4 linked regions of the Homo sapiens genome follow. The protein of the gene in region 1 interacts with the protein of each later gene in a biochemical or structural test. Each region holds a gene or a part of one and is shown in the gene's direction. Other genes may lie near its edges. The genes, in order: USP10, WWTR1, ANLN and AICDA.

Region 1 (7,762 bases):
CGAGTATTAACAGCTGTGTTGACTAGCCCAGTTAAGTGGTTTTTAGTGAAGTAAGAATGATTTCTCATAGGCAGTGAGAGTCCCTTCTAACCTCTAGTTGTGGTGGCGCACAAATAAGACGTGGCACTTACCAGCCTCAAGTCTCTGTCAGGTCACGGGCTCGGCACTTTTTGAAAGCAATTTTAAAGAGCCCCAGGTTAAAGGCATCTTGCTAAAAGCACAGCTTCAAGAAGACTTTTCTTGAAAGCTTTAGAATTTGTGAAAACGTATAGTACAACACTGAGGCTTGATTGGGACTGTGATTAGCTAGAGAGGATTCTCAGAATATCGAGGTGTTTGGGAAGCAGAAAAGAGGACACTGGGCCTCACTCCTGGGTCCTGCAGAGGAACAAACCTGAACCGAGAGTCCTCTTCTCTCCGTCCCCTGGCACAGCAACCCCACCTCATACCTCCTTCCATATAGATGACCCAGGAACTGTGGGCATGGCTGGCTTCTAGCCGGCTCCCTGTCTACCCTAGGGGCGCCCTATACCTTCCCGTGAAGACTCAGACACTGTCTCTCCCAGGCCTGCACACAAGAGCTGTGCTTTCTGCTGACGGGCTTGGCTGCTGTGCCGGGTTTAGTGTCCGTTGCTCCTCTCACACTTCTAGCTGCCTTATCACTCATCAGCCGATTGCTTTTTAATCCCATTTGAGGACCAGCAAGAGGAAGAAAGATGCCAGTGAGAATCATGTAACAGATCCTCCTCCCCATTTTATTCTATCCATCGGGAAACCTGGAATGCCGGCTAAGTCAAAGAAGGCATCCTCGGCCTCTGCTCCTGCATCTTCACTCGCCTCCAGATCAGCTGTCTGAGCTGACTTGGATGTTTTGCTACAGTGATTTTATTTTTATATCTTTTCTTGCTTGCTGTATTTTTATATCCGCTGCCACCTCCAATACATTATCAAAATATGACATAAATGGGGGCTGGGCGCAGTGGCTCACACCTGTAATCCCAGCACTTTGGGAGGCCGAGGCAGGCAGATCACCTGAGGTCAGGAGTTCGAGACCAGCCTGACCAACGTGGTGAAACCCCAACTCTTCTAAAAACACAAAAATTAGCCTAGCATGGTGGTGGGTGCCTGTAATCCTAGCTACTTGGGAGGCTGAGGCAGGAGAATCGCTTGAACCTGGGAAGCAGAGGTTGCTGAGATCATGCCACTGCACTCCAGCCTGGGCAACAGAGCAAGACTCCATCTCAAAAAAATAAATAAATAACATAAATGGGGGACAAGAGGACCTCACTTGGGTCATGGGTCAGAAGTACAGATGGCTGCCTCGAACAGCATGCCTCCGACGGACTCTTGTGTCGGTGTAAGTGGTACTTCTGCGCACAGTAAGAGCAGGGAGTTCCCGCCTCGTAGCAGCTGGTAGACTGGTTCCTATTTGGAGAAATCATGTTACTGTTCTGTAACTGAAGTTTTGTTTTGTTTTTTTTTTGTTTGTTTGTTTTTTTCTTGCTCTGTCACCCAGGCTGGAGTGCAGTGGCGCGATCTCGGCTCGCTGCAACCTCTGCCTCCCGGGTTCAAGTGATTCTCCTGCCTCAGCCTCCCGAGTAGCTGAGACTACAGCCGCGTGCCACCACGCCCGGGTAATTTTTTGTATTTTTAATAGAGACGTGGTTTCACTGTATTAGCCAGGATGGTCTCGATCTCCTGACCTCGTGATCGCCCGTCTCAGCCTCCCAAAGTGCTGGGATTACAGGCGTGAGCCACCGTGCCTGGCCTGTAATTGAAGTTTTATGATCTGACGCATATGTAAAATTTTAATTCTTGCCTTGGATTTTTCACAACTGTTTTTGTTTTTAAGTCAGCAGCTTTTTTCTTTTCCATTTTGTAGAGCACCTGTTTTTAAGGGGCCTCCCACAGGAGCATCACAGCCTCGGCCGTTGCTCCTGTTTCTTTAGTGAGCTGGCTGCACATTTTGTGTCCTATTACGTCACATGGCTCATTTCCTTCATGAGTCAATTTTTGTGCAACTGAAGGGATAGAGTGTTGTTTTGTTCCTGGTCTGACAGGCAGTTTACTTGCTGGGGAGAATGTTGTTAGCCATTTTCTGCTGCTGTTACCCTGAACCTTTCTAAAAGTGCTTCAAGCCATTGATATTTTGTTTTCCAGAACTGCTTTCTCCAGGGGTTAAAAATAAGAATTTTAAATGCCACCGAACCTATCGGCTCTTTGCAGGTGAGTAAATTTGTACGACATTACTTCTTCATTAAAACACTGATGAAGGGGTTTACAGCTGGGCACAGGTTTGCTGCAACTTAGCATAGCGACCAGATGCTGTACTCAGGTATCCCTGTGGCCTTGTGAGTCGGGGAGTCACGTGAGAGTTTTACCTGAAACTCTGCGTAGATGACGGATTATCATCTTGGCCCTGAGGACAGATAACAGAAGACCTTGCTCAAAGCGAACATTTCTGTCTTTGAGTCAGAGGAGGGAGTTTCAGGCTCCCAGGCTGGCTGTTTGAGAATGTGACCTCTCCCGGCTGTGCTTGTGGCACCTGTGGGTGACAGTGCTGTGGAGTTTCCACGACACCTGGTCACCCAGCCAGGTTGGGTGAGCGCGCCCCCAGCCGGTGATCCCTGCGTCCTCCCCCACAGGTATTGTTAGGGCTGCTTGAGAGGGTGGGCCCGATTACACAAGCTCCTCGGCTGCCAGGCCCTCAGTCAGTCATGAGAAATCTCCCAACAGGGTGAATGGCACCCCCTGTTCCCTCATGGGTGGACCTTGAGACCTCTTCTGTCTCCTGGCTTAGGCTCCCTGCAGTATCATTTTTTCTGCCACATCATCTTCCCTTTCCTTTCTGCCTTCCCTTTTATCCTTCTTTCTCTTTTATAGCGTCATCTTTTATGCCTCTGAGTCTTTACCTCTTTGGATTGTTGCTGTTTGCCGCACTTTTGTTTGCTTCCCAGGCTGTTTTTACTACATGTTTCTAGCTTCTGTGTCTTCCCTCCTCTGGTGTGGCCTTTGGTGAACCTGTTTGTATCGTAACATAACACTGCCATTTATTGACCTTCACACATGTATTGAACCTCTTCCCAAGATATTCTTTCATTTCCTTACATGTGTCCTAGGAGATGGGAGGTGGGATCCCTGTTTTATAAAAGAATAAACCAGAACTCAAGGAAGAAAACTCACCACTCTGGCCTGCAGTGGCAGAGCAGGGCTTCAAGCTCCTGTCCACCTCAGCTCACGCCCGATGTTTTAGGAAGTTTGGCGAGTGGGTGAGGGCCCAGGGATGGGGGCCCAGGGGTGAGGGCCTAGCGGTGGGGGCCCAGGGGTGAGGGCCCAGTGGGTGAGGCCCAGAGCCACACTGCAAGGTGCCAGGCTTCCCTCTCTTCCTCTCACTATTCATTGTTCCTTTTGACTCTCTTCTTTTCTCCCCCCGATCACAATTCCTCCTCAACTTGCTGGGCCTCAGATGGGACGGCCATGGGCACCACGCGCTTGTGGGTGTCTCCAGCCCTGTCTGGAATGGAAGGTCTGAGTCCTCAGACTCTGCAGCCAGCCATTATCCTGCCTGGCTCCTTGGAGTGTGGCACCCAGGTCCCAGTGGGTGGCCAGCAGTTTCTCCGCCTTCTCCCTGCACCTCTTCCCCTGGAGGCTCTTGCGGGGGACATCACTGGGCAGGGGCAGGGGCTAGGGATTGCTCCTCTCCTGGTCAGGGCCCCAGTGTGAGCACACACACCCCTCCCCGACTCTGCAACCTGCCTCGCCCCGGGACCTGGGCCTGGGTTGCTCTCCCCTGCCCTCCTGAATCCTCATCCCCTAACCCATTATTTTTTTGAGATAGAGTTTTGCTCTGTCGCCCAGGCTGGAGTGCAGTGGCACAGTCTCCATTCACTGCAACCTCTGCCTCCCAGGTTCAAGTGATTCTTGTGCCTCAGCCCCCCGAGTAGCTGGGATTACAGCTGTGCACCACCACATCCAGCTAATTTTTGTATTTTGAATAGAGACGAGGTTTCGCCCTTTTGGCCAGGCTGGAAGCCTATTCTGATCTTGGAAATGAGGTCACCGGACTGGTTAGAATTACCTGTAGAGTGAGCAAAGGAACACTTTTTAAGAACTGCTGTGATTGTGGGGCCTGGGAGAAGCAATCTCGCGCACAAGCTTTTCAGGCGGTTCTCAGCGCTCCTGTCAGGGGGGCTTGCAGGTGTGAGTGACACACGGCTCAGCCCAGGGTAGTTAACTGGGCTGCTGCTTATGAAACTAGAATGGTGACATGCAGTCCCCCTTGACATTTTAGAATGGAGATGTCTTGTGGGAAAGACAAGTTAGTAAAACCCCCAGGCCCTGCAGATTCTACTGATGGTCGCTTTGAAGCAAAACTCTTAGCCCAGTCAGTTAGGTCTGTGAGGTGAAGATCTAGGACAGAAGTCTCAAAGTGAACTTGGGATCCAGGGGACATGCTGCTGTCATGGGTGCTTCCTGCCCTTTCACAAGATGGCTGTGACTTGTGCAGCACAGGATGAAGCTATGCCCTTGGATTGGCTGTGTCCCTGGCTCTCCGAAGTACGGGCCCCACAGTCTTGCTGTCCCTATGCTGTTCAGTCTCCTCCGGGGTCCCTGCACAGAGGATTTCTTTGTGCAGAGCCCAGGAGTCTGACTGGTGGCCTCAGTCATAAGCACTGTCCTCTAGCCAGCCAAGGTCCCTGGCCCAGAGAGGACTGAGGCCTCCTGCTGTCATTTAGCCCCTCCACGTGACAACTGCGACTAGAACCTGGTGATGTTTGGTCTTGTTTTAGTGCTGAAATTCCCTACCAGCCAAGTCTTGCATCTCTCCTGGTTCCTTTTCTTTTGTGCCACTGATGGTGGGCGCAGCTTAGCAGGCTGCCCTGTCATTCCCCGCGGAATGCTGCCGGACAGCCGCCTTCCCGAGGCTGGTGTCTGCTGCTGGCCAGGCAGACCTGTGCCCCTCTGCTCCATAGAAGTGGAGGATGTGTTCTGTGGCTGTCTTAATGTTTTCATGACATCTTCTACAGATTTTTTGTTTTAGGCCTTTGACTAAGGCTTCTTGGTTATAGGATTTTTTTTTTAAGTAAATAACTGTGTGTGTGTGTGTGTGTGTGTGTGTTTTGTTCTGTTAAAACATAGAAAAATGGGTAATTTTTTTTAAAGGCAAATGCGTAACTACCAGCACCATCTCCGCAGTGCCCCACCACAGCTCCACGCTCAAGCAACCGTGGTTAGCAGTCCCAGGGTCCCTCCTGCCATGTGGGCCGGCACCGGGAGATTGTGTCCCGTGTCTTTAGGATAGATGGGCCACAGAAGGCCTAAGGACCTTGTTTTCTCATTTAATATACCATAAGCGTATTCCCGCATCACCATTCTTAATCTATTCCACGAAAAAATAAATTGTGTTATTTTAATATAATTTACTCATCAGTCATTTCTTCTAGTGGCTATTGAGGTTTTCCGTTTTTTCACTGTTATAAATGACATCATAATCTCTGTCCAAGATTCAGATAATCTCTTCAGGACAGTCTAGAAGTAGAGTCAGCCACATCCAAGGGCATGAGCCAGGTCTGTAGGCCTGTACAGCTGATGGCTGTGTAGGAGTGTCTGTGTGAGGCGTGGGACATTTTAAATATGTGGTTAATATGCGTACATGCACACATGTACCTATCTGACTTACCCTTACCTTGCAGTTATAGAAAAGTTTTTATTATGGATTGCTTGCGTGTTTGAGTTGAAATAGCATTGGTTTGTGTGATGACATCTCTCTGTCCCACCTGCTTTGGAGAGGGGTTTTACACATAGGATGCATCCCTGGAGGGAAGTCGGCGGAGACCTGTAATGATTCGTGTGCAGTGCTGTTCTCACTCTGCTGCCTGCTGGGCTCTCTTCCAGTGGTCTACCATCACGGCAACAGTGCGACGGGCGGCCATTACACTACAGACGTCTTCCAGATCGGTCTGAATGGCTGGCTGCGCATCGATGACCAGACAGTCAAGGTGATCAACCAGTACCAGGTGGTGAAACCAACTGCTGAACGCACAGCCTACCTCCTGTATTACCGCCGAGTGGACCTGCTGTAAACCCTGTGTGCGCTGTGTGTGCGCCCAGTGCCCGCTTCGTAGGACACCACCTCACACTCACTTCCCGCCTCTCTTTAGTGGCTCTTTAGAGAGAAACTCTTTCTCCCTTTGCAAAAATGGGCTAGAATGAAAAGGAGATGCCTTGGGGTTCGTGCACAACACAGCTTCTGTTGACTCTAACTTCCAAATCAAAATCATTTGGTTGAAACAGACTGTTGCTTGATTTTAGAAAATACACAAAAACCCATATTTCTGAAATAATGCTGATTCCTGAGATAAGAAAGTGGATTTGATCCCCAGTCTCATTGCTTAGTAGAATAAATCCTGCACCAGCAACAACACTTGTAAATTTGTGAAAATGAATTTTATCTTTCCTTAAAAAAGAAATTTTTTAATCCATCACACTTTTCTTCCCTACCCTTTAGTTTTTGATAAATGATAAAAATGAGCCAGTTATCAAAGAAGAACTAGTTCTTACTTCAAAAGAAAAATAAACATAAAAAATAAGTTGCTGGTTCCTAACAGGAAAAATTTTAATAATTGTACTGAGAGAAACTGCTTACGTACACATTGCAGATCAAATATTTGGAGTTAAAATGTTAGTCTACATAGATGGGTGATTGTAACTTTATTGCCATTAAAAGATTTCAAATTGCATTCATGCTTCTGTGTACACATAATGAAAAATGGGCAAATAATGAAGATCTCTCCTTCAGTCTGCTCTGTTTAATTCTGCTGTCTGCTCTTCTCTAATGCTGCGTCCCTAATTGTACACAGTTTAGTGATATCTAGGAGTATAAAGTTGTCGCCCATCAATAAAAATCACAAAGTTGGTTTAAAGGTGTGTGCGTGTTTCTTTGAATGCGAATGCCTTTTCGGGTAACTGAAATTCATGGGGGCATGAGTTTGCCTGCAGAATTAAAATCTGCCCTTCGATCAGCTCGACGTGTTTGTGGAAGCTGAACCACCACTCAGGTTATGCTTGTTTAGTATTTTCAAATGGATTAGTGATTTGGGTACACGAAGTTTTTGACTCTTCGATTGGCAGAAAGGAGGAGGTTTTCTCCCCTTCCCCTCCTCATCCCTTGTTTCTATAGCCCACCGTTTTCAGTATCACCAAAATAGTTGCTGTAGGTCAAGGCTAAATGCTCTTCAGTTGAGTGCCACTGGGGCGGCTGAGCGGTGCCTCCAGACGCCACCCTCAGTAGTGGGAAGGAAGCCTTCTGAGACGGAAGACATGGAGAGAGGGATGTCACGTGCAAGGGTGCCCGTGCCCCGGCTTCTGGCCCTGTGTGGATGATTGTGGTGTCCTGAGATCTACAGAGAAGGGGTTTTAACGTGGTCTGAGCCTTTCTCTCAAGTTCTTGCTCTTACCATCTGGTATTTCTGATTGTAGCCTGGTGCCATCTGGGGTTCAGAGCTTCCTAAACTTTCTGTACAAGTGTTGTCCGTCTAACCTACTTACCCTTTGTAATTCTATTGTGATTTGCTTGGCTGAATTATAACTCATATTGAGAGGTGAAGCCAGCTGGACTTCCTGGGTCAAGTGGGGACTTGGAGAACTTTTCTGTCCTCTAAGAGGATGGTAAAATGCACCAATCAGCACTTTGTAGCTAGGATTGTAAAACGCACCAACCAGCACTCTGTAGCTAGCAAGAGGTTTGTAAAATGCACCAATC
Region 2 (6,053 bases), on another chromosome or scaffold:
GTTATGGTGGAAGCTGGCCTTAGTTATCAATGCTTCTCAATTTTTGAAGTAGATATTATCTCTTCAGAAAATTGTTTGGGACTTTTTGAATTAACCTGTTGTTTTGATATTGTGTAATTAATAGTGGCTGAAGACCTGGGTTTTTCTTTCTCTCAGGACAATGAACATTTATTATATTTTTGTATGTATATAACTTTGTATATATCAATGACACCCAGAGCCATGGATATGTGGCAGACACTATATGGCACTTTACTCTAACTTTTGTAAAAGGAGCATATGATCCCAATTTCTAGATGGGTAAACTGAGAATCAGGCAGGTTAAGTGTGTCTAAGCTTACACAGCCACAAAGCTCGATCTAATGACACCAAAGTCAGTAGTGCATTCTGTCCCATACTATGACACATAAAGAACCTATATTCTTCATGTCATATCCCAGACACCTACTTTTCCTCTAGTACAGCATTTTCTCACCTGTGTTCTGTAGAACTTCAGTTTTATTTGAATACACATACTGCCAAAATAGGTTTAGGTGATTAAATGGGTTTAGGAAATAGTGTCTTAAAGAAAACAAAAGATTTCTTTACTCTAAGACTTAAAGCCTTAACATGCTCATATGCACTGTGCTCATATGCTTGTGAGAAAGGCAGATAGTTGTAGGGTGTAGGTATTACAGAAAGAGGGAAAACGTCTGCAGAACTGCCTTTATAAATGATGCCTAAAGTCATCAATGAAGACAACTTTTTAATAGCCTGGTTAAAAGAAGCTTCACACCATTCTCTTTGAACATAAAGAAGGATGGTATGGGTAAACCTAAGCTTACAATGAAACCTGTAGATTATAGTTCTGTAATAAGCTGTTTATTACAGACAAGGCCTCTCTACTCTTTTGTAAAACAGTTCTTCACACCTTTGTCATGGGAAGGCACAGATCATAGATCAGATCCACAGTGCCTTTCACATGCTCCTTTCTTATCTCCTTGGCCTTTTCCATTCTGGACCACACCTATCCAGAAATAATTTTCGATTTCTTCCACATCTCTGTACCTCTTATGAGTAAGGGTCAATAATGTGGTAGTTGAAGACATGAAGGTGAGGGTTATGTAAATACTTGAACTGTTCCTCCTTCAAGAGCCTAAAAGAAGGAATTAAAATGGTTTCTTTTCATTTTGTTATAGGAGAAAACGCAGGACAAACACCCATGAACATCAATCCCCAACAGACCCGTTTCCCTGATTTCCTTGACTGTCTTCCAGGAACAAACGTTGACTTAGGAACTTTGGAATCTGAAGACCTGATCCCCCTCTTCAATGATGTAGAGTCTGCTCTGAACAAAAGTGAGCCCTTTCTAACCTGGCTGTAATCACTACCATTGTAACTTGGATGTAGCCATGACCTTACATTTCCTGGGCCTCTTGGAAAAAGTGATGGAGCAGAGCAAGTCTGCAGGTGCACCACTTCCCGCCTCCATGACTCGTGCTCCCTCCTTTTTATGTTGCCAGTTTAATCATTGCCTGGTTTTGATTGAGAGTAACTTAAGTTAAACATAAATAAATATTCTATTTTCATTTTCTGCAAGCCTGCGTTCTTGTGACAGATTATACAGAATTGTGTCTGCAGGATTGATTATGCAGAATACTTTTCTCTTTCTTCTCTGCTGCCCCATGGCTAAGCTTTATGGGTGTTAATTGAAATTTATACACCAATTGATTTTAAACCATAAAAAGCTGACCACAGGCAGTTACTTCTGAGGGCATCTTGGTCCAGGAAATGTGCACAAAATTCGACCTGATTTACAGTTTCAAAAACTGTATTGATGACAGTAGTACCAAATGCTTTAAAAACTATTTAACTTGAGCTTTAAAAATCATTGTATGGATAGTAAAATTCTACTGTATGGAATACAATGTAATTTTGAATCCATGCTGGCTCTGATGGCTCTTATTAGTCTGTATTTATAAAGGCACACAGTCCTATTGTAGCTTATCTTTCGTTATTTTACTGCAGAGCATCTAGACAACTTAGTCCCTCCAGCGGGAAAGTAGCAGCAGCAGCATTAGTCACAGGTCTTACACTACAGATCTTGTGAAAGAGACCAGTTTGGTACTAATTATGAGCATTTTATTCAAACAAAAGTTTTTGAAATATTACAACTGGGGATTTAAAAAATTGCAGCTTAGAATCTGATGGTTTTTTTTTTTCTTGATGTTGTTTGTTTGTTTTTGAGATCGAGTTTTGCTCTTGTTGTCCAGGCTGGAATGCAATGGCACAATCTCGGCTCACTGCAACCTCTGCCTTCTGGGTTCAAGCGATTCTCCTGCCTTAGCCTCCCGAGTAGCTGGGATTACAGGCACCTGCCACCACGTCCGGCTAATTTTTTGTATTTTGAGTAGAGACGGGGTTTCACCATAATGGTCAGGCTGTTCTCAAACTCCTGATCTCAGGTGATCCACCCATCTCGGCCTCCCAAAGTGCTGGGATTACTGGCGTGAGCCACCGCACCCGGCCTTGATGTTTATTTTATAAAGCACTGTAATTTTGTAGCTGATGACAAAAGGCAGCCAAATGTTTTTGATAAATCAGTGGCAACTGTATTTTTGTCTTTTGAAATAACTCTGAAAACATCAGGACAACATAGATTTCAACCTGATAGCACACCACACACAGTGAGCTGTTGCTTTTTAAATTCTGAAGCCTTGTCAGGTTTGCTTCCTAGATTTCAAGTGTTTAAAATAATTCTATCTATGAAACTGAAGGATGAAGCAGATCTCTGACTGACATGTAAAAAAAAATGCCCTTTGAGGGTGTATGGTGGAGATAAATGTTTCTGAATTCAGTAAAATTGATTCCTAAGTATATTATCCTAATCCTGTTTGCTACAGTTGGTATAAAAAGGCATGAAATATGTATTCAATACCTCTTATGTAACCAAAACCATTTTTAATTAGCTTTTAAGGACTGAGAGAGCATCATGTTCAACTGGCATGCAGTCTGCCTGCATTGCCAATGAAGTCCTCAACTGTTTAATATTTTGAACTAATATTATTTATAATCTATGAATTTAATCTTTTTTGAAAGACTTTAATAATTTGAGTCTCTGAGAGGATACTTTCAATTTCCATGGGGGACTTATTTGTTGGGGATCTTAAATAAGATTCCTTTTGATCTACCGGAATATACATGTACAGAGTACATTGGATCATGTTGGAAAGAAGGCAAGTGAAAAGGTCAGAGATGAAGTAGCAAAGTTATGGAATATCGTGGAAAGGATACTAGTTGTGAAATGGAAAGAGACAAGTTATAGTACCCCAAAAGCAAAACAAGCAGGAGATGCAAGAGATGCCCCAAAAGGACAAAGCAACAATTTTCTGTTGCCACCTTTATACCGGAAGACTCTGTTGTAGAAGAAAAGAAGGCTTTGGTGCACCTTATGTGGGAGGAGGAGGGGCAGGGCATGCTGATGCTGAGCGTACAGGCAGACAAGAGCGTAGCCTGCTGTTGCCTCCATCACTATGAAATGACTTATTTTACCTGAAGGACCCATGGTTTATGTTCCTCTAATTCCTTTCACTCTCCCTAAGCCCTCTGAGAGAGATGAAGATAGATGATTTTATTGCTACTAAATTGAAGGGAGCACTATTTCTTTTTGTCTTTTGTTAGCAAAAAATTGCAAAAAGAATTGTACATTCTTGCTAAAAATAAATAAATAAATAAAAAATTAAAAAAACAAGGGACCTAACAAAACTCAGCAGTGTTACTGTATTTTTAAAAAATATTTTTATAGACTCATTTTCAGGTTATTAAATGTAAGAGAAACAGATACCCCTCTTTTTTAAAGTAGGTAAATCATTGATGATTTATATTACCAATTTTTAGAAGTAATTTTCTAGTAAGCTTGTGGCATCAGAAAATACTAGAAGATTTTTTTAGTTAAATTAGTTAGAACATTTATGAATGAATATAATAAATATTTTTTCAGAATAAAATATGGACCCTTTGTGTTTACTAATAGATAAAGCCAGATATAATTTTTTGTTTTTAAGGCCACAAAATATGGCCTTTGTTAAAGAACACTAAAGTTAGAAATCTAAAGTTAGAGCAACTTTTTAATGGCTATTTCCTATTATTGTAAGTGTTAAAACCCCTGCAGAATTCTTGATAAGGTGCTATTTATACTATATTTCTTATTATAAGATAACTGTCTTTAGTCTTCTTAGTACTAGTCTTTTTAGTACTAAATCAATCAGTAAACATCATCATTTCACCCCAAAATTTTGTCACAGAAAAGGCGTATCAAATGAAAAATAATTTCAGAGATCTTTCTTTCAAGATATTTTTTCCTGATAAAATACATTGTCTTGAAGTAAATACATTGTCAAAACCTAATTGCAATTCTGTTAAATCTAAGTAATTTTTAGACAGTGTTTCACCGTATTATTTAGGATGTGAAATGCCATTTCTTTCACTGATTACACCATATACAGGAAACAGGTAAAACAGTGAAAACTTTATTGTGCTGGTTGATGCCAACTTGGTTGAAAAGCTCTCTGCAGAAGAAGTGATCTAGACTGACAGAAGTGTTGCTAATTACAAGTTGTGTTCTCATGACGTAATTAGAAAGTAACTTCTCAAAGTACAACTTTTATGAAAAAAATAAGCTGTTAAAAAAAGGAAATCGTAGGTTAATTTAATTGGGAAAATGGGCAATTGACAGAGACCATTTTCCTAACACATATATGTGCTAGTACTTTAACTTTTTAAAATTTTACTTCTACGTTTTGTAATATAAAAATTTCTATTTTAAGTTTAGAATGTTATACGTACCGAAAGTATGCAGCCAAATCGATCAGATCAAACCATTTTACCTGGAGTTTGGTACTGGTTTTTACTTCTCTGAATCTGTATAAGAAAAATAAAGACAATTGAACTTCCACTTGGAGCTTTTGACTTTTCATTATTTGTCTGTGTTCCTTTTACTAGGGGATTTGGGTGGTACTGAAGACAGGCTTATGTAACCCTCCTGGCAGACAATGAAAGAAAGAAAAATCTGCAGGCAAACAATTTCTTGGCTCACGTGCCTGGCCTTCAACATTCTAAATGTTCACAGAATTCTAGTTTCCACTTTATTTACAATGTCCACTGAGGTTTTTAAAGGTGTATATATACACCTTTAAAAATAAAAACATATACCTTTAAATATATATATATCACATCATTGTCCTCCCAACACCCTCACAGATTTGACAAGACCATCAAAAATACAGGATTCTTGCTGGGCACGATGGCTTATGCCTGTAATCCTGGCAATTTGGGAGGCTGAGGCGGGAGCATTGCTTGAGCCCAGCAGTTTGAGACCAGCCTGGGTAACATTGTGAGACCTTGTCTCTACAAAAATATATAAACATTAGCCAGGTATGGTGGTGTAGAATATACAACAAACTCTTATAAACCAATAGAAAAAACAAACAGCCCAATAGAAATATGGATCAATAATGTGAATGGAAAGTTTATAGAAGATGAAACTGGCTGGTGACTAATTTACCAACCTCATTCCAAATCAGAAATTTAGATAAATAATGACTGAATTCCCAGTGGCTCATAGGCTTGCTGGAACTCTTTCATTGACCTAGACTCTGCAACCTTTTCCTACTGGCTGTTTTTGAAATCGGTTTCTTGTAACTTAAAAGTTTGAGTTGATAAAACCTTGAACTGTAATTAGCAGAGAATTGTGTTTAGAAATATTTATTTATAGGGGTCACAGATAGAATATGCTGGGGAAGCTTACGTGTCCTAAATAACCTTTTCTGCTTGTAAGTCATTAGGTCAAAGTAATGCATGGCACATTGGTTTGCAGTTTGAGGACCAGAAGTAAGGTGACAACTCTCCTGGTTTGCCCAGGACTAAGGGCTTTTCCAGATTCAGGAATTTCAGTGTTAAAACTGTCCAATCGGCCAGGCGCATGGTGGCTCATGCCTGTAGTCCCAGCACTTTGGGAGGCAGAGGTGGGCGAATCATGAGGTCAGGAGATCAAGACCAACCTGGCCAACATGGTG
Region 3 (7,762 bases), on another chromosome or scaffold:
TCAAAACTGGATGAAAAAAATAATGCCTTTCCTTGTCAAGTTAATATCAAACAGAAAATGCAGGTATGTACTTTTGTGGAAAGGGGCTTTGGAATGTTTCTTGCACTAGGCTGTGAGCTCTGTGAGGACAAAGGGCCCAGCCTTACTTATCTCTGAACCCTGAGTGGCCAGAATAGTGTCTGATGCATAGAAGCTCAGTAAATCACATTTGAATTCAGTTTATTTTTGGAAAGGTACTCTTTTTGAAAACTTGGAAACTCATTTGATATTGCTGAAATATTTATTTTTAAACAAGTTTTTCATAAATATCCTTAAAGTATAACTATTAATTGGATAATGATGTAGTGGGAAATTTGTTATGCTCTTCAAGGTTTTTTCATGCTAAGGAAGCTTTTTTTTTTTGAGACAGCATTTTGCTCTTTGTTGCCCAAGTTAGATTGTAATGGCGCAATCTTGGCTGACTGCAACCTCTGCCTCCCGGGTTCAAGCAATTCTCCTGCCTCAGCCTCCCAAGTAGCTGAGATTACAGGCATGCACCACCACACCTGGCTAATTTTTATATTTTTAGTAGAGATGGGGTTTCACTATGTTGGTCAGGCTAGTCTCAAACTCTTGAACTCAGGTGACCCACCCACCTCAGCCTCCCAAAGTGCTAGGATTACAGGCATGAGCCACCATGCCTGGCTTTTAAAAAAAATATTTTAATTATAAAAAAAAATAGAGATGGAGTCTCACTATGTTTTCTAGGCTGATCTCACACTCCTGGGCTCAAATGATTCTTGTGCCTTGGACTCCCAAAGTGCTGGGATTACGGGTGTGAGCCACCATGCCTGGCCCTAAGGAAGCATATTAAAAAAAAACAGTGTAATTGTAATTTAAATAAAATGAATCAGATACTTTCTAAATTTCTACGTTGTTGGATGTAACCCCAATTTTAACTTTAATAAGTATGAATTGGAAGTTTTTTCATAAGGAATAATATTTATAGCTTAATTATTGTAACATGCTAAATGTTTTTGGTGCATAGTCGAGAAACTTGAGCAGTGAAACTAACATTTTGACTTTCATCTGGAAATTCTAGAAACTATCCAATCAAGTTAGTTAGAATTAAAATTTAAAGTGAAAATGATGATTTAAAATGTGTATATTTTTTCTCCTCTCATTGGTTTTCCTAGGAACTCAATAACGAAATAAATATGCAACAGACAGTGATCTATCAAGCTAGCCAGGCTCTTAACTGCTGTGTTGATGAAGAACATGGAAAAGGGTCCCTAGAAGAAGCTGAAGCAGAAAGACTTCTTCTAATTGCAAGTAAGTGTGATGCACCTGAAAGAGTTCCAACAAATTTCTAACCAGGGAAAACTCATTTTGATATTTAGAAATCTTTAAGTTTAGAGAAAGGGCTTTTCCTAGTCATCTGTTCCAGTGGATCTATTTTTTGTTCTTGTTTTTATAAGGTTTAAGAACTCTATGTAAAACAAATTGTAGTTTGCATGAAAGGTAGAAGCAACCGAAAGGCATTTGAAGAAATGCAGTTGTGCAGATTGAATGAATGAATGGATGAATGAATGAATCTCTATATATACACATGTACACATACATTCTCTCTCTCTCTCTCTCTCTCTCCCTTCCTTCCCTTATCAATAAATAGCTAAAACAACTTCTGTGAATTTTGCTGTGTGCGTATATGTGGTGATGATGGGGCATTTTGGGGTGGACAGATGATACCACACATGAAAACTAGCCGAAAGTTGATGTATTAAATTATAAGGACTTGGTAAATGAGCAACCAAGGTTTTCCCCAACCACCTACCATGTTTTATAAAGATAGTGTTACTGATTTCGTCTTCGCTGTTACGTACAGTTTCCATATCAGTACACTTTTTTGAATTTGCTCTCATTAGAAACAGTTACGATTTTAATATTTGGAATATTGCGTTGTTTTACATAGCTGGGAAGAGAACACTTTTGATTGATGAATTGAATAAATTGAAGAACGAAGGACCTCAGAGGAAGAATAAGGCTAGTCCCCAAAGTGAATTTATGCCATCCAAAGGATCAGTTACTTTGTCAGAAATCCGCTTGCCTCTAAAAGCAGATTTTGTCTGCAGTACGGTTCAGAAACCAGGTATGGTGGTGATTTTTCTAGATTGTGTGTTAAATTATGAACCTCACCTAGATTGAATTGTACAGAATAGAAACAAGTAAATCATGCATAACAATGCAAAGTTTGTATCTTTGGCCTTTAGGTCCTTTTATTGAGATATAATAAAAATAAGAAAACTTCAGATATATATAGGGATACCAATCTACACAATAATGGACATTGCTCTTACTGAAAGTTTGAATATAAAGTTTTATTAAATGTTGGATATGGTTTTTAAAGTTCCTTTTAAAATTTTATTTGTGTGGAACACAAATTTTTTTGTGTGTGTTCTGGAATACCAAAGAAATAAAGGAATACTGAACTGATTTATACACAATTTATTTTAAAAAATTTCTTTTTGAGGGGAAGGAGGGCTAGACATAGGTGAGAAGCAAATTTCAGGCATAGGGAAAGTAAATGGAGGTTGTGAAAGGTTTGAGCACTTTTGTAGGAATAAGGTAATTTAGGTTCTAATTCTTGATGTTATCTGATTTTGATGGGGTGTGGGCAGAAATTTATTGGTAATTTAGTATGCGTCTGGAGGTACGTGGTTATTAATGACAAATGGTGAAGAAATAGTTTATGTTTTTATTATCATTTATCTCTGAGTAACTTTTATAGAAATACAGTATTTTAATTTCAGTTTTGAAATAACAAACCATAATTTACCCTTTTGAGATATGTACTATTAGTTAAGAATTAAGGGTCACTAGGTAAAATTCAAAATCAGCAGAAATTGAGAAATGTGGAGTGAAATTATTTCAATTTACATAACAGGGAGAGACCTTGATGATGCTTATTTCAGGATTATACTGCCTACTTAAGTCTTATTTAGCTTTTTGTGTCTGGAAAGTTGATTTTAGTAATTTTAAAAATAAATTGTATATAAATCAGTTCAATATTCCTTTATTTCTTTGGTATTCCAGAATGCTGATTAGCTAAATCTGATTTTGCTTGTGCTTACTATGTAATATGATTACTTCTTACAGATGCAGCAAATTACTATTACTTAATTATACTAAAAGCAGGAGCTGAAAATATGGTAGCCACACCATTAGCAAGTACTTCAAACTCTCTTAACGGTGATGCTCTGACATTCACTACTACATTTACTCTGTAAGTAAATCAGGCTTTTGATGATTCGAATGCATTTTTCTTTTTGTAGAGTTGATACAGTCTAAAGCATTCAGGTGGCATTTATAATCTTTGAAACGCCTTATGCACATTCTTTTTATATTGACAAATAACCCATCTTTCAATTTGTTGCTTTAACTCATATGTTTCTATCCTTCCTTTTGTTGAATAGCACCTTTTTTCCACATGACTGTAGGTATTACATATTTTGAAATGATATATACATTAAACCTGGACCATAGATTTTTAACATATGCCTTAAATCTCATAATGTACTTAACATTCAGTCTTAATGAAAATACGTTTATATTTAGTGAAACATTTATTTTTAAATAAGAGTCAAAGTGCAGTTTGAAAAATAATTACTACTTTTATTATTGAAGATTGTGAGTTGTAAAACACGGAGGAAAATATTTTGGACTTGCATTATAGGGAAAAAATAGACTTCTTAACAATTTTTATTGACTTTAAAGTCATAGTGGATTCCTTTACTTAGAGTCTTGTAAGAGTATTTGTAGCATCATTTTTAATGGTGTGATTGAGGTTTTCTCTCAAGGTTTTACTTAATGCTTTATTTTTCCAGGCAAGATGTATCCAATGACTTTGAAATAAATATTGAAGTTTACAGCTTGGTAAGCTGATAAAGCCTTCTAAAATAATGAAGAGTATATTTTTCTTAACAATATCAGATTATAAATTAATTATGCTTTGGGTTTGTGCGTAGGTGCAAAAGAAAGATCCCTCAGGCCTTGATAAGAAGAAAAAAACATCCAAGTCCAAGGTGAGAATTAAAGAAACCCAGTAAAAATATTTTCATCAGAAGTAATAGATATCATCATACCAGTTTTAATTTATGTACAACTTTTAATGATTAGGAAGTTTTTGGATCAGTTTCATGTTCCAATTTGTAGTTACTATGTTAAATAGGTATGAATACTGAAAATAAACTGTGAGTGATCATGATTGTCAGTATAAGTTCCTGATACACTCGGGCTAGATAATTCTATTTTCTCTACATTTACTTGGCAACTTTTATAACTGCTTAAAACTTTTCTCAAGACTTTTCCCTGAGCCCTCTTCTCTCTGTGTTCTCTATACCAGTACTTAATAATTATGTGGTCACTTTGCAGGCATAAGGTTGCTTTCCAGCCTTCCCAGTCTGTGTTCTTTTCTTAAGTCATCATTTTAAAAACTTTTTTTTTTTAGCTCTAACAAAAAAGGACTAACAGTATAAGAAAGCCTTAATCAGGGACTCAAGTGTAATGTTTTCATATTTAAGAATTAATTACTCAAGGACTCATGTGTAATGTATTCATATTTAAGAACTCATTCTTTTTTTTTTTTTTTTTTTGAGACGGAGTCTCGCTCTGTTGCCCAGACTGGAGTGCAGTGGCGTGATCTCAGCCCACTGCAACCTCCACCTCCCAGGTTCAAGCGATTCTCCTGCCTCAGCCTCCTGTGAAGCTGGGACTACAGGTGTGTGCCACCACATCTGACTAATTTTTTGTATTTTTAGCAGAGAGGGGGTTTCACCATGTTAGCAAGGGTGGTCTCAATCTCTTGACCTCATGATCCGCCCGCCTCAGCCTCCCAAAGTGATGGGATTACAGGCGTGAGCCACTGCTCCCGGCTAAGAATTAATTATTTTCTATGTAGGAATTTCTCAAGGTTGGATAGTTTTACTTTCTGAGACATAATGTTTAATAAGAAATATATATAGTAAGCTATCTTTTCTTTTAGGCTATTACTCCAAAGCGACTCCTCACATCTATAACCACAGTAAGTAGAATTTTTGAGAAATTGAGCTTCCTTGAGAAATCTTCATCTTACCCATACAGTTTTAAATTGGTTAACCATTTCTGAACCTTGAGCACTGTGGAAAATTTTAACATGTACTAATGGGGGGATATCCCTGTAATTTATGTAGGAAAAGTGTTTTCTGAAATGTATTTCTTATTGTGTTAAAAGAGATGAGTGATTCATATTTAAATCTTTGTATTAAATAAGGGAAATAACTTATGTTTCTTCTTCACACCTTTTTTTTTTTTTTTAGAAAAGCAACATTCATTCTTCAGGTGAGTGTATCTTGAACTATTTGAAACTTTAGAATAAGGTAAGGAATTAAGCACTTGCATATTTACATATATATAGGCCATCTTGATTTGTGAATGTTTACCTTGATCTCCTTTGGAATAATATTTTCTATGTGAGTTTCTTAGTAACAGGATTACTGGCCAGAGTAGGATGCAGTTTGGTTGCACCTTTGTTAGGTACCACCATAGAGGCACCAGTCATCATGTTATTCAGCTCTAGCAGCAGGTGGCATTACTCTTTACTTCAACTTCTATTGTTCTATAGATTTGTTTTGTGCTTTCCATACTGCAGATTTTACTTCTTTTAGCTTTACTGATCATAACTGGCGTTGTATCATGTCAGAAATGCATCTTTCTAGTTCACTGGGAACTGGAATGCTGTTAAGCCAGGAAAGGCCTTCTTTAGAATGACTTTAGGCCTATCTTTTTCCAAAAGGAATTAGGATGGAGCTGGTTTCACTCACTTCCTTTAGGCTATTGGTCTCTTTCTTCTCTGTGGTGCAAGAGAGTTACTAAGAGACCTGTACAGAGATAGTTTCTGCTGCTGATTTTGTCACCCTGCATTATAACTAGCACTGAAGTCTTTTCCATGTTTTTTATCGGGAAGTTGCTTTTTATGCATACATTTTTAGGTCTATATCTTTAAAAACACATCCATCCCAATTATTAAGGAGTGCTTGTACCTCTTTCATTAGGAAATAAGTTGATTTTTCCCCCCACATTTAAAGATGAAGGAAAATGAGGCAGTTTTTTTTTCTCTGTGGCAGCTTAATTTTCTTCTACTGGGATGGGGTGAGGAATTGTTACTTATACTTAACAAAAGTCATTCTGAACTAAACTTAATTTCCTCGTTCTTCACAGTCATGGCCAGTCCAGGAGGTCTTAGTGCTGTGCGAACCAGCAACTTCGCCCTTGTTGGATCTTACACATTATCATTGTCTTCAGTAGGAAATACTAAGTTTGTTCTGGACAAGGTAATCCAACTTTATTTCTAAGGGTGTGGTGTTTTTTTTTTAATCTTAGAAAAATTAGCTCAATGGAAATGCCACAATGCTTTTAGGTATTTGAAATCTTCGACTGAAAACATATGTTCTTAGAATTGCACATTTTTGCTAGGTATGAGTGTACCTAAATGTTTTTTTTTTTTTTTGTCTTGGAAGTATGTCTCCCTTTTAATAGTTAGAACTTCAGTGGATGCTTGCTTATTCTAAGTATCACTTCTGACTAAAGAAGTATTACTTCCTGCATTTAGATGTTAAGTTTATAATTTTAAAACATAATATCTTGCCTATTTCCATTTCTTTGTGGTTTTTTTTGTTTTTTTGTTTTTTTGTTTTTGAGACAGGGTCTCACTCTGTCACCTAGGTTGGAGTGCATGGCTCACTGAAGCCTCAGCCTCGCGGGCTCCCACCTTAGCCTTCCAAGTAGCTGGGACTACAGGCACGTGATGCCACGCCTGGCTAATTTTTACTATTGTTTTGTAGAGATGGGGTTTCATCGTGTTGGCTAGGCTGGTCTCGAACTCCTGGGCTCTGGCCATCTGTCTGCCTTGGCCTCCCAAAGTGCTGGGATTATAGGTGTGAGCCACCTTGCCCGGCCAGCCTATTTGAACCTATATTTTGAAATGAACAATATTTTATGAATTTAGTTTTGACAAGACAGTGAAAGGTAGATTAACCTCTTAGAAAAGTACTTACGAATCTAAGAGATTTCCTTCTCATACTTCCCTTTCATATTAGAAGCTTCAAAAATCAGATCTGTGTTAACATCACTATTGAGTCTTTTTTTCACCAAGACTATTTTAAGGAGTAAGACAACTAGAGGCAAATTTTATTTCTTGGGTTGACTTCTATATAATACAGTGATAATTTATATTATCATGTGAGATTTCTGTAGTGCGAATATAGAGATGAAGAAGTGTAAAAATTAGAAGCCCTGGTTTCTAGTATTTACCCTTAGTGATTTACTCTTTAACATTGAGCAAAGTCACCTCATCTCTCTAGGGTCTTGTTTTCCAGTACAGAAATATTAGTTTAGCCTGAAACAATCTAAAATTCTATGAAATGCTTTCTTTTAGTTGATGGACAAAAAGCAGACTGTATTTGAAGTTTTGATTACTATTAATGCATGAATGTGTTTTAACAAGTTAATTTTAAAAATTTTTGTAACTTTTTATTTAGTAATTCAGCTACTTTAACCAGTTGAGTGATCCTGGGTCTTTTTTTCTCTGTCTCTTATTTTGTCTGTTTTAGATAAATTATGATGTAAGAGAGCGAGAGCTACTGGGCTATTTGTTCCAGGAAAAGGTTGCCATTATTTTCTTTGCTTGAAATTAATGAGCTTAAAAATCAATCCTTAATTTTTGATCTACATATATTTGTTTTACTAA
Region 4 (7,762 bases), on another chromosome or scaffold:
TGGAAACAACTACAAAGAGCTGTTGTCCTAGATGAGCTACTTAGTTAGGCTGATATTTTGGTATTTAACTTTTAAAGTCAGGGTCTGTCACCTGCACTACATTATTAAAATATCAATTCTCAATGTATATCCACACAAAGACTGGTACGTGAATGTTCATAGTACCTTTATTCACAAAACCCCAAAGTAGAGACTATCCAAATATCCATCAACAAGTGAACAAATAAACAAAATGTGCTATATCCATGCAATGGAATACCACCCTGCAGTACAAAGAAGCTACTTGGGGATGAATCCCAAAGTCATGACGCTAAATGAAAGAGTCAGACATGAAGGAGGAGATAATGTATGCCATACGAAATTCTAGAAAATGAAAGTAACTTATAGTTACAGAAAGCAAATCAGGGCAGGCATAGAGGCTCACACCTGTAATCCCAGCACTTTGAGAGGCCACGTGGGAAGATTGCTAGAACTCAGGAGTTCAAGACCAGCCTGGGCAACACAGTGAAACTCCATTCTCCACAAAAATGGGAAAAAAAGAAAGCAAATCAGTGGTTGTCCTGTGGGGAGGGGAAGGACTGCAAAGAGGGAAGAAGCTCTGGTGGGGTGAGGGTGGTGATTCAGGTTCTGTATCCTGACTGTGGTAGCAGTTTGGGGTGTTTACATCCAAAAATATTCGTAGAATTATGCATCTTAAATGGGTGGAGTTTACTGTATGTAAATTATACCTCAATGTAAGAAAAAATAATGTGTAAGAAAACTTTCAATTCTCTTGCCAGCAAACGTTATTCAAATTCCTGAGCCCTTTACTTCGCAAATTCTCTGCACTTCTGCCCCGTACCATTAGGTGACAGCACTAGCTCCACAAATTGGATAAATGCATTTCTGGAAAAGACTAGGGACAAAATCCAGGCATCACTTGTGCTTTCATATCAACCATGCTGTACAGCTTGTGTTGCTGTCTGCAGCTGCAATGGGGACTCTTGATTTCTTTAAGGAAACTTGGGTTACCAGAGTATTTCCACAAATGCTATTCAAATTAGTGCTTATGATATGCAAGACACTGTGCTAGGAGCCAGAAAACAAAGAGGAGGAGAAATCAGTCATTATGTGGGAACAACATAGCAAGATATTTAGATCATTTTGACTAGTTAAAAAAGCAGCAGAGTACAAAATCACACATGCAATCAGTATAATCCAAATCATGTAAATATGTGCCTGTAGAAAGACTAGAGGAATAAACACAAGAATCTTAACAGTCATTGTCATTAGACACTAAGTCTAATTATTATTATTAGACACTATGATATTTGAGATTTAAAAAATCTTTAATATTTTAAAATTTAGAGCTCTTCTATTTTTCCATAGTATTCAAGTTTGACAATGATCAAGTATTACTCTTTCTTTTTTTTTTTTTTTTTTTTTTTTTGAGATGGAGTTTTGGTCTTGTTGCCCATGCTGGAGTGGAATGGCATGACCATAGCTCACTGCAACCTCCACCTCCTGGGTTCAAGCAAAGCTGTCGCCTCAGCCTCCCGGGTAGATGGGATTACAGGCGCCCACCACCACACTCGGCTAATGTTTGTATTTTTAGTAGAGATGGGGTTTCACCATGTTGGCCAGGCTGGTCTCAAACTCCTGACCTCAGAGGATCCACCTGCCTCAGCCTCCCAAAGTGCTGGGATTACAGATGTAGGCCACTGCGCCCGGCCAAGTATTGCTCTTATACATTAAAAAACAGGTGTGAGCCACTGCGCCCAGCCAGGTATTGCTCTTATACATTAAAAAATAGGCCGGTGCAGTGGCTCACGCCTGTAATCCCAGCACTTTGGGAAGCCAAGGCGGGCAGAACACCCGAGGTCAGGAGTCCAAGGCCAGCCTGGCCAAGATGGTGAAACCCCGTCTCTATTAAAAATACAAACATTACCTGGGCATGATGGTGGGCGCCTGTAATCCCAGCTACTCAGGAGGCTGAGGCAGGAGGATCCGCGGAGCCTGGCAGATCTGCCTGAGCCTGGGAGGTTGAGGCTACAGTAAGCCAAGATCATGCCAGTATACTTCAGCCTGGGCGACAAAGTGAGACCGTAACAAAAAAAAAAAAATTTAAAAAAAGAAATTTAGATCAAGATCCAACTGTAAAAAGTGGCCTAAACACCACATTAAAGAGTTTGGAGTTTATTCTGCAGGCAGAAGAGAACCATCAGGGGGTCTTCAGCATGGGAATGGCATGGTGCACCTGGTTTTTGTGAGATCATGGTGGTGACAGTGTGGGGAATGTTATTTTGGAGGGACTGGAGGCAGACAGACCGGTTAAAAGGCCAGCACAACAGATAAGGAGGAAGAAGATGAGGGCTTGGACCGAAGCAGAGAAGAGCAAACAGGGAAGGTACAAATTCAAGAAATATTGGGGGGTTTGAATCAACACATTTAGATGATTAATTAAATATGAGGACTGAGGAATAAGAAATGAGTCAAGGATGGTTCCAGGCTGCTAGGCTGCTTACCTGAGGTGGCAAAGTCGGGAGGAGTGGCAGTTTAGGACAGGGGGCAGTTGAGGAATATTGTTTTGATCATTTTGAGTTTGAGGTACAAGTTGGACACTTAGGTAAAGACTGGAGGGGAAATCTGAATATACAATTATGGGACTGAGGAACAAGTTTATTTTATTTTTTGTTTCGTTTTCTTGTTGAAGAACAAATTTAATTGTAATCCCAAGTCATCAGCATCTAGAAGACAGTGGCAGGAGGTGACTGTCTTGTGGGTAAGGGTTTGGGGTCCTTGATGAGTATCTCTCAATTGGCCTTAAATATAAGCAGGAAAAGGAGTTTATGATGGATTCCAGGCTCAGCAGGGCTCAGGAGGGCTCAGGCAGCCAGCAGAGGAAGTCAGAGCATCTTCTTTGGTTTAGCCCAAGTAATGACTTCCTTAAAAAGCTGAAGGAAAATCCAGAGTGACCAGATTATAAACTGTACTCTTGCATTTTCTCTCCCTCCTCTCACCCACAGCCTCTTGATGAACCGGAGGAAGTTTCTTTACCAATTCAAAAATGTCCGCTGGGCTAAGGGTCGGCGTGAGACCTACCTGTGCTACGTAGTGAAGAGGCGTGACAGTGCTACATCCTTTTCACTGGACTTTGGTTATCTTCGCAATAAGGTATCAATTAAAGTCGGCTTTGCAAGCAGTTTAATGGTCAACTGTGAGTGCTTTTAGAGCCACCTGCTGATGGTATTACTTCCATCCTTTTTTGGCATTTGTGTCTCTATCACATTCCTCAAATCCTTTTTTTTATTTCTTTTTCCATGTCCATGCACCCATATTAGACATGGCCCAAAATATGTGATTTAATTCCTCCCCAGTAATGCTGGGCACCCTAATACCACTCCTTCCTTCAGTGCCAAGAACAACTGCTCCCAAACTGTTTACCAGCTTTCCTCAGCATCTGAATTGCCTTTGAGATTAATTAAGCTAAAAGCATTTTTATATGGGAGAATATTATCAGCTTGTCCAAGCAAAAATTTTAAATGTGAAAAACAAATTGTGTCTTAAGCATTTTTGAAAATTAAGGAAGAAGAATTTGGGAAAAAATTAACGGTGGCTCAATTCTGTCTTCCAAATGATTTCTTTTCCCTCCTACTCACATGGGTCGTAGGCCAGTGAATACATTCAACATGGTGATCCCCAGAAAACTCAGAGAAGCCTCGGCTGATGATTAATTAAATTGATCTTTCGGCTACCCGAGAGAATTACATTTCCAAGAGACTTCTTCACCAAAATCCAGATGGGTTTACATAAACTTCTGCCCACGGGTATCTCCTCTCTCCTAACACGCTGTGACGTCTGGGCTTGGTGGAATCTCAGGGAAGCATCCGTGGGGTGGAAGGTCATCGTCTGGCTCGTTGTTTGATGGTTATATTACCATGCAATTTTCTTTGCCTACATTTGTATTGAATACATCCCAATCTCCTTCCTATTCGGTGACATGACACATTCTATTTCAGAAGGCTTTGATTTTATCAAGCACTTTCATTTACTTCTCATGGCAGTGCCTATTACTTCTCTTACAATACCCATCTGTCTGCTTTACCAAAATCTATTTCCCCTTTTCAGATCCTCCCAAATGGTCCTCATAAACTGTCCTGCCTCCACCTAGTGGTCCAGGTATATTTCCACAATGTTACATCAACAGGCACTTCTAGCCATTTTCCTTCTCAAAAGGTGCAAAAAGCAACTTCATAAACACAAATTAAATCTTCGGTGAGGTAGTGTGATGCTGCTTCCTCCCAACTCAGCGCACTTCGTCTTCCTCATTCCACAAAAACCCATAGCCTTCCTTCACTCTGCAGGACTAGTGCTGCCAAGGGTTCAGCTCTACCTACTGGTGTGCTCTTTTGAGCAAGTTGCTTAGCCTCTCTGTAACACAAGGACAATAGCTGCAAGCATCCCCAAAGATCATTGCAGGAGACAATGACTAAGGCTACCAGAGCCGCAATAAAAGTCAGTGAATTTTAGCGTGGTCCTCTCTGTCTCTCCAGAACGGCTGCCACGTGGAATTGCTCTTCCTCCGCTACATCTCGGACTGGGACCTAGACCCTGGCCGCTGCTACCGCGTCACCTGGTTCACCTCCTGGAGCCCCTGCTACGACTGTGCCCGACATGTGGCCGACTTTCTGCGAGGGAACCCCAACCTCAGTCTGAGGATCTTCACCGCGCGCCTCTACTTCTGTGAGGACCGCAAGGCTGAGCCCGAGGGGCTGCGGCGGCTGCACCGCGCCGGGGTGCAAATAGCCATCATGACCTTCAAAGGTGCGAAAGGGCCTTCCGCGCAGGCGCAGTGCAGCAGCCCGCATTCGGGATTGCGATGCGGAATGAATGAGTTAGTGGGGAAGCTCGAGGGGAAGAAGTGGGCGGGGATTCTGGTTCACCTCTGGAGCCGAAATTAAAGATTAGAAGCAGAGAAAAGAGTGAATGGCTCAGAGACAAGGCCCCGAGGAAATGAGAAAATGGGGCCAGGGTTGCTTCTTTCCCCTCGATTTGGAACCTGAACTGTCTTCTACCCCCATATCCCCGCCTTTTTTTCCTTTTTTTTTTTTTGAAGATTATTTTTACTGCTGGAATACTTTTGTAGAAAACCACGAAAGAACTTTCAAAGCCTGGGAAGGGCTGCATGAAAATTCAGTTCGTCTCTCCAGACAGCTTCGGCGCATCCTTTTGGTAAGGGGCTTCCTCGCTTTTTAAATTTTCTTTCTTTCTCTACAGTCTTTTTTGGAGTTTCGTATATTTCTTATATTTTCTTATTGTTCAATCACTCTCAGTTTTCATCTGATGAAAACTTTATTTCTCCTCCACATCAGCTTTTTCTTCTGCTGTTTCACCATTCAGAGCCCTCTGCTAAGGTTCCTTTTCCCTCCCTTTTCTTTCTTTTGTTGTTTCACATCTTTAAATTTCTGTCTCTCCCCAGGGTTGCGTTTCCTTCCTGGTCAGAATTCTTTTCTCCTTTTTTTTTTTTTTTTTTTTTTTTTTTAAACAAACAAACAAAAAACCCAAAAAAACTCTTTCCCAATTTACTTTCTTCCAACATGTTACAAAGCCATCCACTCAGTTTAGAAGACTCTCCGGCCCCACCGACCCCCAACCTCGTTTTGAAGCCATTCACTCAATTTGCTTCTCTCTTTCTCTACAGCCCCTGTATGAGGTTGATGACTTACGAGACGCATTTCGTACTTTGGGACTTTGATAGCAACTTCCAGGAATGTCACACACGATGAAATATCTCTGCTGAAGACAGTGGATAAAAAACAGTCCTTCAAGTCTTCTCTGTTTTTATTCTTCAACTCTCACTTTCTTAGAGTTTACAGAAAAAATATTTATATACGACTCTTTAAAAAGATCTATGTCTTGAAAATAGAGAAGGAACACAGGTCTGGCCAGGGACGTGCTGCAATTGGTGCAGTTTTGAATGCAACATTGTCCCCTACTGGGAATAACAGAACTGCAGGACCTGGGAGCATCCTAAAGTGTCAACGTTTTTCTATGACTTTTAGGTAGGATGAGAGCAGAAGGTAGATCCTAAAAAGCATGGTGAGAGGATCAAATGTTTTTATATCAACATCCTTTATTATTTGATTCATTTGAGTTAACAGTGGTGTTAGTGATAGATTTTTCTATTCTTTTCCCTTGACGTTTACTTTCAAGTAACACAAACTCTTCCATCAGGCCATGATCTATAGGACCTCCTAATGAGAGTATCTGGGTGATTGTGACCCCAAACCATCTCTCCAAAGCATTAATATCCAATCATGCGCTGTATGTTTTAATCAGCAGAAGCATGTTTTTATGTTTGTACAAAAGAAGATTGTTATGGGTGGGGATGGAGGTATAGACCATGCATGGTCACCTTCAAGCTACTTTAATAAAGGATCTTAAAATGGGCAGGAGGACTGTGAACAAGACACCCTAATAATGGGTTGATGTCTGAAGTAGCAAATCTTCTGGAAACGCAAACTCTTTTAAGGAAGTCCCTAATTTAGAAACACCCACAAACTTCACATATCATAATTAGCAAACAATTGGAAGGAAGTTGCTTGAATGTTGGGGAGAGGAAAATCTATTGGCTCTCGTGGGTCTCTTCATCTCAGAAATGCCAATCAGGTCAAGGTTTGCTACATTTTGTATGTGTGTGATGCTTCTCCCAAAGGTATATTAACTATATAAGAGAGTTGTGACAAAACAGAATGATAAAGCTGCGAACCGTGGCACACGCTCATAGTTCTAGCTGCTTGGGAGGTTGAGGAGGGAGGATGGCTTGAACACAGGTGTTCAAGGCCAGCCTGGGCAACATAACAAGATCCTGTCTCTCAAAAAAAAAAAAAAAAAAAAGAAAGAGAGAGGGCCGGGCGTGGTGGCTCACGCCTGTAATCCCAGCACTTTGGGAGGCCGAGCCGGGCGGATCACCTGTGGTCAGGAGTTTGAGACCAGCCTGGCCAACATGGCAAAACCCCGTCTGTACTCAAAATGCAAAAATTAGCCAGGCGTGGTAGCAGGCACCTGTAATCCCAGCTACTTGGGAGGCTGAGGCAGGAGAATCGCTTGAACCCAGGAGGTGGAGGTTGCAGTAAGCTGAGATCGTGCCGTTGCACTCCAGCCTGGGCGACAAGAGCAAGACTCTGTCTCAGAAAAAAAAAAAAAAAAGAGAGAGAGAGAGAAAGAGAACAATATTTGGGAGAGAAGGATGGGGAAGCATTGCAAGGAAATTGTGCTTTATCCAACAAAATGTAAGGAGCCAATAAGGGATCCCTATTTGTCTCTTTTGGTGTCTATTTGTCCCTAACAACTGTCTTTGACAGTGAGAAAAATATTCAGAATAACCATATCCCTGTGCCGTTATTACCTAGCAACCCTTGCAATGAAGATGAGCAGATCCACAGGAAAACTTGAATGCACAACTGTCTTATTTTAATCTTATTGTACATAAGTTTGTAAAAGAGTTAAAAATTGTTACTTCATGTATTCATTTATATTTTATATTATTTTGCGTCTAATGATTTTTTATTAACATGATTTCCTTTTCTGATATATTGAAATGGAGTCTCAAAGCTTCATAAATTTATAACTTTAGAAATGATTCTAATAACAACGTATGTAATTGTAACATTGCAGTAATGGTGCTACGAAGCCATTTCTCTTGATTTTTAGTAAACTTTTATGACAGCAAATTTGCTTCTGGCTCACTTTCAATCAGTTAAATAAATGATAAATAATTTTG

The links.
Region 2: of the proteins of USP10 (region 1) and WWTR1, one has a biochemical effect on the other in vitro, tested with the Homo sapiens proteins (one study listed by BioGRID).
Region 3: the proteins of USP10 (region 1) and ANLN form a complex in vitro, tested with the Homo sapiens proteins (one study listed by BioGRID).
Region 4: the proteins of USP10 (region 1) and AICDA form a complex in vitro, tested with the Homo sapiens proteins (one study listed by BioGRID).

The regions. Positions count from the first base shown.
Region 1 is NC_000016.10:84,773,000-84,780,761, forward strand, and holds the end of USP10 (ubiquitin carboxyl-terminal hydrolase 10), read left to right. Parts: intron 1-2,160; coding exon 2,161-2,226; intron 2,227-5,895; coding exon 5,896-6,083; 3' UTR 6,084-6,923; downstream 6,924-7,762. UniProt on the Homo sapiens protein: Hydrolase that can remove conjugated ubiquitin from target proteins such as p53/TP53, RPS2/us5, RPS3/us3, RPS10/eS10, BECN1, SNX3 and CFTR.
Region 2 is NC_000003.12:149,516,115-149,522,167, reverse strand, and holds the end of WWTR1 (WW domain-containing transcription regulator protein 1), read left to right. Parts: intron 1-1,178; coding exon 1,179-1,363; 3' UTR 1,364-4,933; downstream 4,934-6,053. UniProt on the Homo sapiens protein: Transcriptional coactivator which acts as a downstream regulatory target in the Hippo signaling pathway that plays a pivotal role in organ size control and tumor suppression by restricting proliferation and promoting apoptosis.
Region 3 is NC_000007.14:36,420,682-36,428,443, forward strand, and holds part of ANLN (anillin), read left to right. Parts: coding exon 1-63; intron 64-1,175; coding exon 1,176-1,311; intron 1,312-1,951; coding exon 1,952-2,128; intron 2,129-3,135; coding exon 3,136-3,262; intron 3,263-3,863; coding exon 3,864-3,912; intron 3,913-4,004; coding exon 4,005-4,061; intron 4,062-5,020; coding exon 5,021-5,059; intron 5,060-5,333; coding exon 5,334-5,355; intron 5,356-6,234; coding exon 6,235-6,347; intron 6,348-7,625; coding exon of another isoform or gene 7,626-7,679; intron 7,680-7,762. UniProt on the Homo sapiens protein: Required for cytokinesis. Essential for the structural integrity of the cleavage furrow and for completion of cleavage furrow ingression. Plays a role in bleb assembly during metaphase and anaphase of mitosis.
Region 4 is NC_000012.12:8,602,256-8,610,017, reverse strand, and holds part of AICDA (single-stranded DNA cytosine deaminase), read left to right. Parts: intron 1-3,005; coding exon 3,006-3,153; intron 3,154-4,532; coding exon 4,533-4,803; intron 4,804-5,095; coding exon 5,096-5,211; intron 5,212-5,680; coding exon 5,681-5,734; 3' UTR 5,735-7,762. UniProt on the Homo sapiens protein: Single-stranded DNA-specific cytidine deaminase. Involved in somatic hypermutation (SHM), gene conversion, and class-switch recombination (CSR) in B-lymphocytes by deaminating C to U during transcription of Ig-variable (V) and Ig-switch (S) region DNA.